Linked DNA regions of Homo sapiens. The protein of the gene in region 1 interacts with the protein of each later gene in a biochemical or structural test. Each region holds a gene or a part of one and is shown in the gene's direction. Other genes may lie near its edges.

Region 1 (3,745 bases):
GCCTGGGTGACAGAGCGAGACTCAGTCTTAAAAAAAAAAAAAAAAAGTGATATCTACTCCCTCATGCTTCTGCTGTGATCATCTAGAGGGAATATGTATGATCAAAGTAACGTACTACCTGGGCACAGTGCTTGGCACATTGAGAGAGCACAAATGTTAGTAGTATTCTTTTTGTAGAAGTTTCTGCACCATTTGGCCCCTGCCAATCTCTCGCCGCTCTGTCCAGTGTTCTTGGCCTTTGCCTGCAATTTGCCCTCCCCTGTCCTGAGCCACCAACCTTCTTTGTCTTTCAAGACAGAGGGTCACCTGCTGAGAAGCCCATTCACATTCTCACTTCTATCTAAAAATCTCCCCAGTAGCTGTACTACAGATAAACTTCATGGCACGGGTTTGATGCCTGACTTATCTGTACATCTCTGATACCAACATCCCCATCAAGGCCTGGCAGGCTTATAGCAAACCACCCCCAATAACGTTGGGTGAACAAAGGAGAGTACATGTGTGCTTTTTTGGTGTTGTCTGTGTGTGTGTGACTGTGGTGAGTCCAAGTCTTCATGTGCAGCTCACAGAGTGTCCCCAGTTGTGTGTGTGATGAAGGGCTTGTTTCCAGGTGTGTCAGATGGTGACTGAGTGTGGGACTCTTATCTCTGACAGTTTGTGTCTAAATCCAAGATGCGTGCATGCCTGCGTGGGTCTGTCTGTGACAGTGCATCTGTGGTTTCTGTCTGATGGGGTGGATGTCCGTTTGTGTTCCTGCAACAGATTCTGGGTAGCTATTTCTGGACAGTTTGTTCCATTGATAAACTGCATGTGTCATGGTGTATGTATGTCTGTGTCTGAACAGGTCTATCCATGTCTGTTTTTGTGACACTGCCACAAAATGTGATTCTATCACATCAGTACATGTCTGCCTTCAGAGCAGTGCATGTGTGTCCCTGGAGCATCTGTGCATCTTCCTGTGACAGACTCTGCGTCTCTCATTTCTGGGACAGTACAAGTCTTGCTGTGACAGTGCATATCTGATGGTGACAGTGTGTTTGTGACAAGTTCTGCCAGTGTGACGGGACATTTCTGTGTCATCACATGGCAAATGTAGGTCTGCGTGAGTGCCTTTCTGTAACAGTGTATCTCTGGGTGTCATTCTAGGACATAACTATTTTTCTGACAGTGTGCTTGCCTGAAAGTGTATGTCAGTCTCTGGCTGCATGTGTATCTAGGTCGTTTCTGTGAATGTGTCTGACAGTATGTGTTTGTGTATATCTTGGCATTCATGTGTCTTTGGAGTGCATTTTTCTTCCTGGGGTGTGGCGCCTTTTCTGGCTGTTTTTCACAAATTTGTGTCTGAGAGTTGCCACTTCTCTAGCAGCCTCTATCATGTCTCTCAGTCCTTGCCTCTCTCAACTCCAAGAGCAGCCCCATGCCACCACCACTCTGGGCTCACCCCCATCCCCCAAGAACCACCCCCTGCTGTTCTAGATTCTAGACTTGCTGACTGGGCCCAGGGCTCAGGGTTAAAAGCTCCAATAAACACTCACCAGGCAATGCTGCCTTTGACCAATGCACACCCGTGGCGTTGATGGTAGGGGTTCCCCCTCCCTGGCTACCAGATATTTCCAGGGCCCTGGCCTCAGCTTTCCAGTGAAGGCCGCCAGTCGCCTGGAGGACTCCGGTGAAGGAGTCCGACAAGCACCTTTCGAGACGGAGTCTTGGATAGCCACAAGCGCGAATTCTTAGAAGCCCGGCCTGGCGCTATCTCTGTGCTAATATCCAGGCAGCGGCGGCAAACCAACTTCCCAGGAAAGGATACTGCGCAGTTATTTTTTAAGTGTAAATACACACACACACCGCCACCACTACCAACAACAACCCCGCGCAACAACCAAAACAAGCGCGGTGCTGCAAAGGGATTCCCAGAACCGGTTTCCTCTTGGTGTGAGCCCCACCTCAAGCCCCCTCATTTACATGCAGGCCCCGCCTCCTCGGAAGAACCGAGCGTGTATTTGCATAAGGGGGCCCTTGAAACGATGAGGGTGGTATGCAAATAAGAACTGGCTCCGATTGGCTGTGGTACAGCAGGTGCCGCGTCCGGATTGATCAAAGCCAGGTGGGCGGGGCTGTCGCCCAGGGTGACTCTCCCGGGAGGCGCGTGCCCAGGCTCAGTAGCATTGGGGCTGGCGCGCGCGGCGAATCTCAACGCTGCGCCGTCTGCGGGCGCTTCCGGGCCACCAGTTTCTCTGCTTTCCACCCTGGCGCCCCCCAGCCCTGGCTCCCCAGCTGCGCTGCCCCGGGCGTCCACGCCCTGCGGGCTTAGCGGGTTCAGTGGGCTCAATCTGCGCAGCGCCACCTCCATGTTGACCAAGCCTCTACAGGGGCCTCCCGCGCCCCCCGGGACCCCCACGCCGCCGCCAGGTGAGTACATCCTCCCCTACTGCAACCAGACGGGGTGGGCTGGAATGATGGGTTGCAGCGCGGGGGGAGGGAGTCGTGGCTGGGCTCAGCACGCCGCCACCCTGACTTCCTCGCCTCCGCCTGCGTAGGAGGCAAGGATCGGGAAGCGTTCGAGGCCGAGTATCGACTCGGCCCCCTCCTGGGTAAGGGGGGCTTTGGCACCGTCTTCGCAGGACACCGCCTCACAGATCGACTCCAGGTATCCGTCATGAGGGTCTTGGGAGGGTCAGGTGCGTGTGGCGGGGGCGGGGGTCCTGGCCCTGGAATGCTGGTTGACCGAGGAGTGAGCCTGCAGAGTGTGTAGAGGACCAGGTGTGTGTGTGTGTGTGTCCGTGTCCGTGTCCGAGGAGTGAGCCTGCAGTGTGTGTAGAGGGCCAGGTGTGTGTGCGTGCGCGTGTGTGTGTCGGTCTAGGAGGTTATGGGCGGGGGGGGGGGGCAGGGGGCTTCAGATTCCGGAGTTCCTTGACCCCGGGGTCCAGGCTGTGTATGTGTGGGAAAGCAGGGACCTAGATGTGAGATTTGTGGGACTTTTGGAGGTAGGTGTCCAGTGTGGAGTCATGCGGACCAGGACCCTGGTACAGAGTTGGGGTGTCGTAGAGCTAAATAGGAAGATTGTGGGCCTGGGGTATCAGGAAATCTAGAACTCAGGACTTGGAGTGATGAGTCCTGATGCCTGAGAACGGAGAGCCCAGGGCTAAGGAAGGTGGGAGAGATAAACTTGGTTCCGAGGACCTGGAGGGCAGGGGAGACGCCCTGGTACGCGTTCTGTGGGGTGCTGTGGTTGGGGACCAGAAAGACTAGAGTGCTGGTAGATGGAGGAATACTGGAGGTAGGCAGAAGGTCTAGACTGGGAGGGGTCTGGGGATCACCTGCTGGCCTCCTTATCACGGCCTTCTTCTCCAGGTGGCCATCAAAGTGATTCCCCGGAATCGTGTGCTGGGCTGGTCCCCCTTGGTGAGTACCTTCGGAGCCCTTCCTAACCTACCTACTCCATCACTGATGTATTCACCTCCTTGCTTTTCCAGGGGATGTATGACTCCCTGGGCCCTGTAACAGTGAGAATACTGCCAGCCCATTTATACTCCCTTGGGGTGACATACAGTTCTGATTCACCCCAATTCCCCTAGAGCCCTGGATTCTCCCCTCCAACAAACCTTTACCATCCTTCCTCCAAACACTGCTGGGGGACTGCCCGCAGGGCGTGCTGGTGGGGAACAAGGGGCAGAGGTCACTGGTTGCCATGGTGATGGTGGCTGCTTCTCTCTTGCCGTTATAACGCTAACGGACATCAGGGCGG
Region 2 (3,745 bases), on another chromosome or scaffold:
AAACAGGTGCTTTGTGAGTGGAAACGTGGCCAGAGTGCGGCGGGTGCTTTGTGAGTGGAAATGTGGCCAGAGTGCGGCGGATGCTTTGTGAGTGGAAACGTGGCCTTCTCTGGAAGCCCTGGGGAGGGGCTTTCCGACTGAGAGGAAGGCCTCGCATCTGCCCACCGCCCAGTCCTGGGCCTCACAGTGAGGATGCAGGTCACGCTGCACAGATGAGGCCCGTGTGGCAGGTGGTCCCAGGAACGAACTCGCCTCCCGCCAGCCCCCTGGGCCTCCCATGGCCCCAGCCCCATCAGGTGGAACGTGCACTGCCTGCGTTTCAGAAGGGGCGGCCTGGGGAAGGGGCGGCTTGGGCACGCTGCCCCTCACCACCACGCGTGACCCACCCATGTGTCTCCCTTTCAGAGCGGGAACAGCTTCCACGTGTTCGACCAGGGCCAGTTTGCCAAGGAGGTGCTGCCCAAGTACTTCAAGCACAACAACATGGCCAGCTTCGTGCGGCAGCTCAACATGTGTGAGTGCTGCCTCCAGGCAGCGCAGGGGTGCGGGAGGCAGACCTGCAGATGGCGGGACCCCAGCAGGAGGACCCTGTGATGAAGGACGGGGCGTCCTGTGCTGGCCAAGGGCATGGCGTGGGACCCTGCAAGCCTGGGGGCCGGGGAGCAGCCGCCTCTTCCATGGGGGAGGGTCCTTGTGGGTATGAACCTGGGGTCCCCATGGAAGAACCGTGAAGCCGGAGCTGTACTCCACGTGTGTCGGGCGCAGGGAGCCCTGTGGGGACACAGGGTCTCCCTTAGACCAAGGCCACTCGGCCACCCAGGCATGGGCTCTGAGGGGGCAGGGCAGGGTCTGACCATGGCCAAGCCCCGCAGCAGCCTCCTGGAGCAGTGGCCGCTCTTCAGGGGTTCTGGTCCCGCCCTGAGGCAGAGCTGCCCCCTTCCCTGTTATGTGCAGATGGCTTCCGGAAAGTGGTCCACATCGAGCAGGGCGGCCTGGTCAAGCCAGAGAGAGACGACACGGAGTTCCAGCACCCATGCTTCCTGCGTGGCCAGGAGCAGCTCCTTGAGAACATCAAGAGGAAAGTGACCAGTGTGAGTGCCGGCCCTGCACCCTTGCCCGGTCTCACCTGCCACAGCTCTCCCCGCCCGCCCCTCCCTGAGGGCTCCCACCCCAGCCTGCCCCTTCCTGAGGGACCTGGCTGCAGTGGACGAGCCTGAGCCTGCCAAGCTCCTAGGCTGCTCCAGTGACTCCTGTCCCTCTCGGGAATCCAGGTGTCCACCCTGAAGAGTGAAGACATAAAGATCCGCCAGGACAGCGTCACCAAGCTGCTGACGGACGTGCAGCTGATGAAGGGGAAGCAGGAGTGCATGGACTCCAAGCTCCTGGCCATGAAGCAGTAGGTCCCACACCAGCATTATGGGCCACAGCGGGTCCTGGCGCCCACCAAGAGGCCCCGGGTGCTGTGGGGGCAGGGCCCTGACCGGGGCCAGGTGCTCAGCTCCACCCTCCCGCTCCACGCACATCTACCCTGGGCCTCTGCCCCAGCCCCGCCGCCCGTGGCTGCTGCAACAGCTCTGGGGCCAGCCGTTTTCCATGTGCAGAAGGGGGTTGGGAGGGTCCCCTGCTCTGCACATCCCCAGCGCCCTCTGGGCCATTGGCTTCTGCCTGGCTCCGAGCTTGGCGGGACCCACCAGCCTACTTTTGAGGACAAGCCTTGCACAGCAGACCCGTCCCACCCGCCTCGGGCCTGGGGTCAGACCCACCTCAGGCCCTTCCTGGAACCGCTGTCCCACACTCGCCTGGGCCCATGGAGCTAGCCCCCAGCCCCTCCTCACCGGGACCCTGCGGCTCTGGGGAAACCTTAGCAGGAGCCTAACACACGGTGGCACCTGAGAAACTGAGGCAAGCCCACCTCGGAAGGCCAGCTCAGGTCTCACGTCCACTTTGGGGCTCCAGGCATGCGGGAACCCCAATGCCAGTACGGCTTCCTCGGCTCCGTGCAGCAGGCGCTCTTGACCCCCACGTCATGGAGGAGGCCTTGGCCTCAGACTCTCCTGCATGGGGTCTAGCAGGAGCCACCGGCTTTGTGATTCCTGGAGTCCGGCCACGTGGACCTGGCCTACCAAGAAGACTCACAGGCTTGACAGGGCCCAGCCTCCCAGAGCAGCAGGAGCGCGGTCATGGCCCTGCTCACCTGGCTGGGGACAGCTCTTCCCCACCCCTGAGCCACCTCCAGGCCTGGCGAGGGCCCTGAGCACCTACAGGACATGGGACAGCCAGTGTCGCAGCCTGAAGAACCGTCCTCCCTTAACCTGGCTGCTCAGGCCTTGGAAGGGCGGCCCAAGGGTCTGCTCCTGGCCTGTGTCCAAGGCAGCCCTCCAGGTGTTTGCCAGGATGGATGCCAGGATCCGGGTGCACCTGGCTCGCATGGATCCATCCCCAACACCCTACGTGACACCAGGTGTCCCCGGCAGGGAGGGGCAGTGGGACCAGCAAGCCCTGGCCCTGGCCCCCAGTCCCTCCACACACAAGTTCTCATCCTGGGGTGGGCCAGGCCAGACATGGTCACACTTACCCCTGCTCCTGCATGGGGGACAGGGAGGGTCTGTGGGGCTCCCTCAGCCCTGGGGCTCATGGGATTGGGCCCCACTGACCCAGCCTGGTCTGTTGCAGTGAGAATGAGGCTCTGTGGCGGGAGGTGGCCAGCCTTCGGCAGAAGCATGCCCAGCAACAGAAAGTCGTCAACAAGGTGGGGGCAGGGCCAGAGGGCCGGCGGGGGCCCCACAAGGGCCGGGGTAACTGTGTCCTCTCTCTCCACAGCTCATTCAGTTCCTGATCTCACTGGTGCAGTCAAACCGGATCCTGGGGGTGAAGAGAAAGATGTGAGGTTTTGGGGATGCCTGCATCCACCACCCGGGGCCCAGGGCTGTCCCCCTTCTCTGTCAGCTGTGCCCCGGGTACCCCGAGGTGGGGGGTGGTGGCTGACCTGCACCCTTCCCCACAGCCCCCTGATGCTGAACGACAGTGGCTCAGCACATTCCATGCCCAAGTATAGCCGGCAGTTCTCCCTGGAGCACGTCCACGGCTCGGGCCCCTACTCGGTGAGTGCCGGAGACAGGGCACCCGCCCAGGCATGCAGGCGGCAGTGGGGTGGGTTGCCCCTGCCGGCACTGCATGGACCTCCTGCCTTTGATTGCAGGCCCCCTCCCCAGCCTACAGCAGCTCCAGCCTCTACGCCCCTGATGCTGTGGCCAGCTCTGGACCCATCATCTCCGACATCACCGAGCTGGCTCCTGCCAGCCCCATGGCCTCCCCCGGCGGGAGCATAGACGAGAGGTGGGGGCCGCATCACCCCAGCCATCCTGTCCCCCAATGAGGCGAGCCCCTGTGGGCCCAGGGCAGAGTTGGGGATGAGGTGGGGCTGGCCGAGACGCCAGCTCACCTGGCCCCCCTCGTGTGCAGGCCCCTATCCAGCAGCCCCCTGGTGCGTGTCAAGGAGGAGCCCCCCAGCCCGCCTCAGAGCCCCCGGGTAGAGGAGGCGAGTCCCGGGCGCCCATCTTCCGTGGACACCCTCTTGTCCCCGACCGCCCTCATTGACTCCATCCTGCGGGAGAGTGAACCTGCCCCCGCCTCCGTCACAGCCCTCACGGACGCCAGGGGCCACACGGACACCGAGGGCCGGCCTCCCTCCCCCCCGCCCACCTCCACCCCTGAAAAGTGCCTCAGCGTAGCCTGCCTGGACAAG
Region 3 (3,745 bases), on another chromosome or scaffold:
TTTGCAGGCTGGAAAGGGAATGATGCCAAGAGTGGCTGAAAGACGCTGACAGGCGGGCCCGAGAAGACAGCCGGAGCTAGCTCCTGAGATAGTCAGGCCGGACCAGGCATGTGGGTTTGGATGGTTTCTAGGAGGGGCTCAGTTTTGCCCAGCCAGTCACAGCGAGTTATGTTTTGGGCAAATGCACTTGCAGGAGCTGAAGCAGTCACGGCCACTGGATCAGGGACCGTCAGTTCCCAGGCGAGCGCACATCGCCATCATGGCCAAGGGCGCGGGTGTGCCCTTACCACCCACTTTCAGAGGCTTGCTGGTGTCTTCAAAGACCCATCTTTTCCCCTTCCCACATCAAGGCTCTCGCCTTGCTCTGTGCATCCTTCCTGTGAGACGTCTCCCTCCTTTCTGTGTTCAGGGCAACCCCAGGCTATGACAACCTGCCGCTTCTGTAAGTCTAAGAAGCTAGGCTGCGTTTAGACAAGCCACTGGATTCTGGGAATTCTATAATTACTGACTTGCAGGTTGCTTAAAAATAGTGAAAACTCCAGGATCCCTGCAACTTCCATGCCCTAGGACTCCTGCCAGGGGCCCAGGGTGTCACCAAGAGAGCCCTGGCCTGGGAGTCATAGGCAGGGTCTCGCCTCCACCCTCTGCCTGGGAGTCATAGGCAGCGTCTCACTTCTACCCTCTGCCTGTGTGGAGAAGTCCACAGGAGTCTTGGGTCTGAGTTTTCTCCTCTATGAAATGAGGCAGAGGGGCCGGTTGATGCTTTGTTTCTTTTAGGGTCTTTTTAGTTATAAAGCCATAAACCCCTTGGCTTGGCTCGCAACTCAGGCTACCCCCGACCCAGGCTTCCTTGCTTGCTGGGTCTCTCTATTGATTCGTTTAACCCGTGTGTTTGGGGGCCAACACTGGTTCTTTCTGGGCAAAACCAAAAACACCCGCAAACTTTTTATGTAAAAAGCACTGAGACACATACTGCAATAAACAGATATCTACTATATCTGTAGTATTAAAAATATTTCATGGGGGAGTATGGTTGAGGAAAAAATGTTCTAAAAAGCTCCCTAGGGGAATCATAATGAAAACAAAGTTAAGAAACACTGATTTAACCACAAAAGTGTGCAGGGCACCATGACAGGTTCGAGGTGAAGAGGCAGATGATAGTATCTCCTCCTCTCTAGGGTCTGTCCAGACCTTCCTGCCTTGTTCTCCCAAGCTGATGTCCTCCTTCCTTTCTTCTAAAAATATATATATTTTTAGACGGAATCTTGCTCTGTCGCCCAGGCTGGAGTGCAGTGGTGCGATCTCGGCTCACTGCAAGCTCCACCTCCCGGGTTCACGCCATTCTCCTGCCTCAGCATCCTGAATAGCTGGGACTACAGGCGCCCGCCACCACACCCGGCTAATTTTTTGTATTTTTTTTTTTTTTTTTTTTTTTTGAGACGGAGTCTCGCTCTGTCGCCCAGGCTGGCATGCAGTGGCACGATCTCGGCTCACTGCAAGCTCCGCCTCCTGGGTTCACGCCATTCTCCTGCCTCAGCCTCCCAAGTAGCTGGGACTACAGGCACCCACCACCACACCCGGCTACTTTTTTGTATTTTTTAATAGAGACGGGGTTTCACCATGTTAGCCAGGATGGTCTCGATCCCCTGACCTCATGATCCACCCGCCTCAGCCTCCCAAAGTGCTGGGATTACAGGCGTGAGCCACCACGCCCGGCCCTTTTTTAAAAAAATTATTATTATACTTTAAGTTCTGGGATACACATGCAGAATGCGTAGGTTTGTTACATAGGTATAAACATGCCATGGTGGTTTGCTGCACCCATCAATCTGTCATCTACATTAGGTATTTCTCCTAATGCTCTCCCTCCCCTAGTCCCCAGCTCCCTGAGAGGCCCCAGTGTGTGATGTTCCCCTCCCTGTGTCTATGTGTTCTCATTGTTCAACTCCCATTTATGAGTGAGAACATGTGGTGTTTGGTTTTCTGTTCCTGTATTAGTTTGCTGAGAATGATGGATTCCAGCTTCATCCATGTCCCTGCAAAGGACATGAACTCTTTCTTCTAAATCTTACCGAACACTCACTTTTGGTGGGTTTATGGACTCATCTACATGTTCTGGTGGTCATGGCTTATTTTTTGTGGCTTTTGTTCCCTGTAGCTATGGCATTGCTGGTTCTACCAACGTGACAGGTGATCAAGTTAAGAAGCTGGACGTCCTCTCCAACGACCTGGTTATGAACATGTTAAAGTCATCCTTTGCCACGTGTGTTCTCGTGTCAGAAGAAGATAAACACGCCATCATAGTGGAACCGGAGAAAAGGGTGGGTCTGTACTTCCACCATTGAGGGTTTTAATGTAGCCGGTCTTCTTCCCAGCTTCATAATTGACTCCACTTGTTCAGCTGAGCTGGGTTTCTGGGAGTCCCTCTAGATCCCTGCTGTGGTCTTTTCATAGCTTCCACCTCACTGCTGCCATCTCTCGAATCCTCCCTGAGCCACTGTGCAGATGAGTGTTGTGGCTCACGCCGCCTTCTCCCCAGTGGACTCCCACAAACTCATCTCCATTTCTAACTTTTTATTGCCATGTTTAAGGCTCTTCAAACCCTGGCTTCTGTTGGTCACCTCTTGTACTACATCCCTATCCACCAAATTCCTGACCTTCACACTGACCCTCCTGTTGACCTAGACTGCTTGAAACTTCCATCCCTGATGCACGCATTGGAGTCCCTATTGGTCTGTCTCTGCTTCTTTTTTTTTTTTTTTTTTTTTTTTTTTTGAGACAGTGTTTTGCTCTTGTTGCCCAGTCTGGTGTACAGTGGTGTGATCTTGGCTCACTGCAACCTCCGCCTCCTGGGTTCAAGCGATTCTCCTGCCTCAGCCTCCTGAGTAGCTGGGATTACAGGTTCCCGCCACCACACCTGGCTAATTTTTGTATTTTTAGTGGAGATGAGGTTTCACCATGTTGGCCAGGCTGGCCTTGAACTCCTGACCTCAAGTGACCCGCCCACCTTGGCCTCCCAAAGTGCTGGGATTACAGGTGTGAGCCACCACACCTGGCGTTATCTCTGCTTTTTGAGAGCAGAAAATGAATCTTATTTGTCTCTGTGTCCCAGTGTCTAGTGCAATGCCTGGCACATTGGAGGGCCTCAACAACAAATGACTGTTGAAAAAGATTGTTAAATGAAAGAGTATTCCCAGCTTTTATAAAACAACAATTGTAATTAGAAAAAAAAACTTCTGAGATTAGAAGTGCAGTTATATGGGCTTACTATCTTTCCCAGTTTGAGAGGAACTGGGAACATGAAGGAGTAGAATTAGGAAAAAACAATGAGAAGATGAAGAGGCTGCCTGTCCTCACCCTATTAAGAGGGCAGGAGCCACATCTGATGAAGTTGTTTTTCATCATTCCTAAAATAGCCGTACATGCCAGACTTGAAGTTCATGTTTTTCTCAGCTGGGCCTTTCAAGGTCTTTGGCAGCTTTAGGCGTATGGCTTAGATTTGTTGTTTAATATTCTCCATCACTCACGCCGGACTTCTCTTGTCTATCATGGGCCTTCATGATAGGCAGCTTCCTGTGTTCCAGTTTCCAGTTCCTCCTGCATTAGTGAGGGTGGTCTGTGAAGAGCAAGAGGGCAGGGAATCATGTTAATCTGCTACAGACATTTAAAAACGACATTGTAAAGTGGCTAATTTGGAGATGGAAAACTCCCAGTGATGTGCTGGTAAACTGGGTCTCAAAGCAAA

The links.
Region 2: the proteins of PIM2 (region 1) and HSF1 form a complex in vitro, tested with the Homo sapiens proteins (one study listed by BioGRID).
Region 3: the proteins of PIM2 (region 1) and FBP1 form a complex in vitro, tested with the Homo sapiens proteins (one study listed by BioGRID).

The regions. Positions count from the first base shown.
Region 1 is NC_000023.11:48,917,438-48,921,182, reverse strand, and holds the start of PIM2 (serine/threonine-protein kinase pim-2), read left to right. Parts: upstream 1-2,158; 5' UTR 2,159-2,348; coding exon 2,349-2,409; intron 2,410-2,537; coding exon 2,538-2,647; intron 2,648-3,351; coding exon 3,352-3,402; intron 3,403-3,745. UniProt on the Homo sapiens protein: Proto-oncogene with serine/threonine kinase activity involved in cell survival and cell proliferation.
Region 2 is NC_000008.11:144,308,501-144,312,245, forward strand, and holds part of HSF1 (heat shock factor protein 1), read left to right. Parts: exon of another isoform or gene 1-405; coding exon 406-514; intron 515-954; coding exon 955-1,091; intron 1,092-1,271; coding exon 1,272-1,396; intron 1,397-2,673; coding exon 2,674-2,749; intron 2,750-2,820; coding exon 2,821-2,882; intron 2,883-3,004; coding exon 3,005-3,101; intron 3,102-3,199; coding exon 3,200-3,336; coding exon of another isoform or gene 3,337-3,377; intron 3,378-3,462; coding exon 3,463-3,744; intron 3,745-3,745. UniProt on the Homo sapiens protein: Functions as a stress-inducible and DNA-binding transcription factor that plays a central role in the transcriptional activation of the heat shock response (HSR), leading to the expression of a large class of molecular chaperones, heat shock proteins (HSPs), that protect cells from cellular insult damage.
Region 3 is NC_000009.12:94,618,905-94,622,649, reverse strand, and holds part of FBP1 (fructose-1,6-bisphosphatase 1), read left to right. Parts: intron 1-2,158; coding exon 2,159-2,321; intron 2,322-3,745. UniProt on the Homo sapiens protein: Catalyzes the hydrolysis of fructose 1,6-bisphosphate to fructose 6-phosphate in the presence of divalent cations, acting as a rate-limiting enzyme in gluconeogenesis. Plays a role in regulating glucose sensing and insulin secretion of pancreatic beta-cells.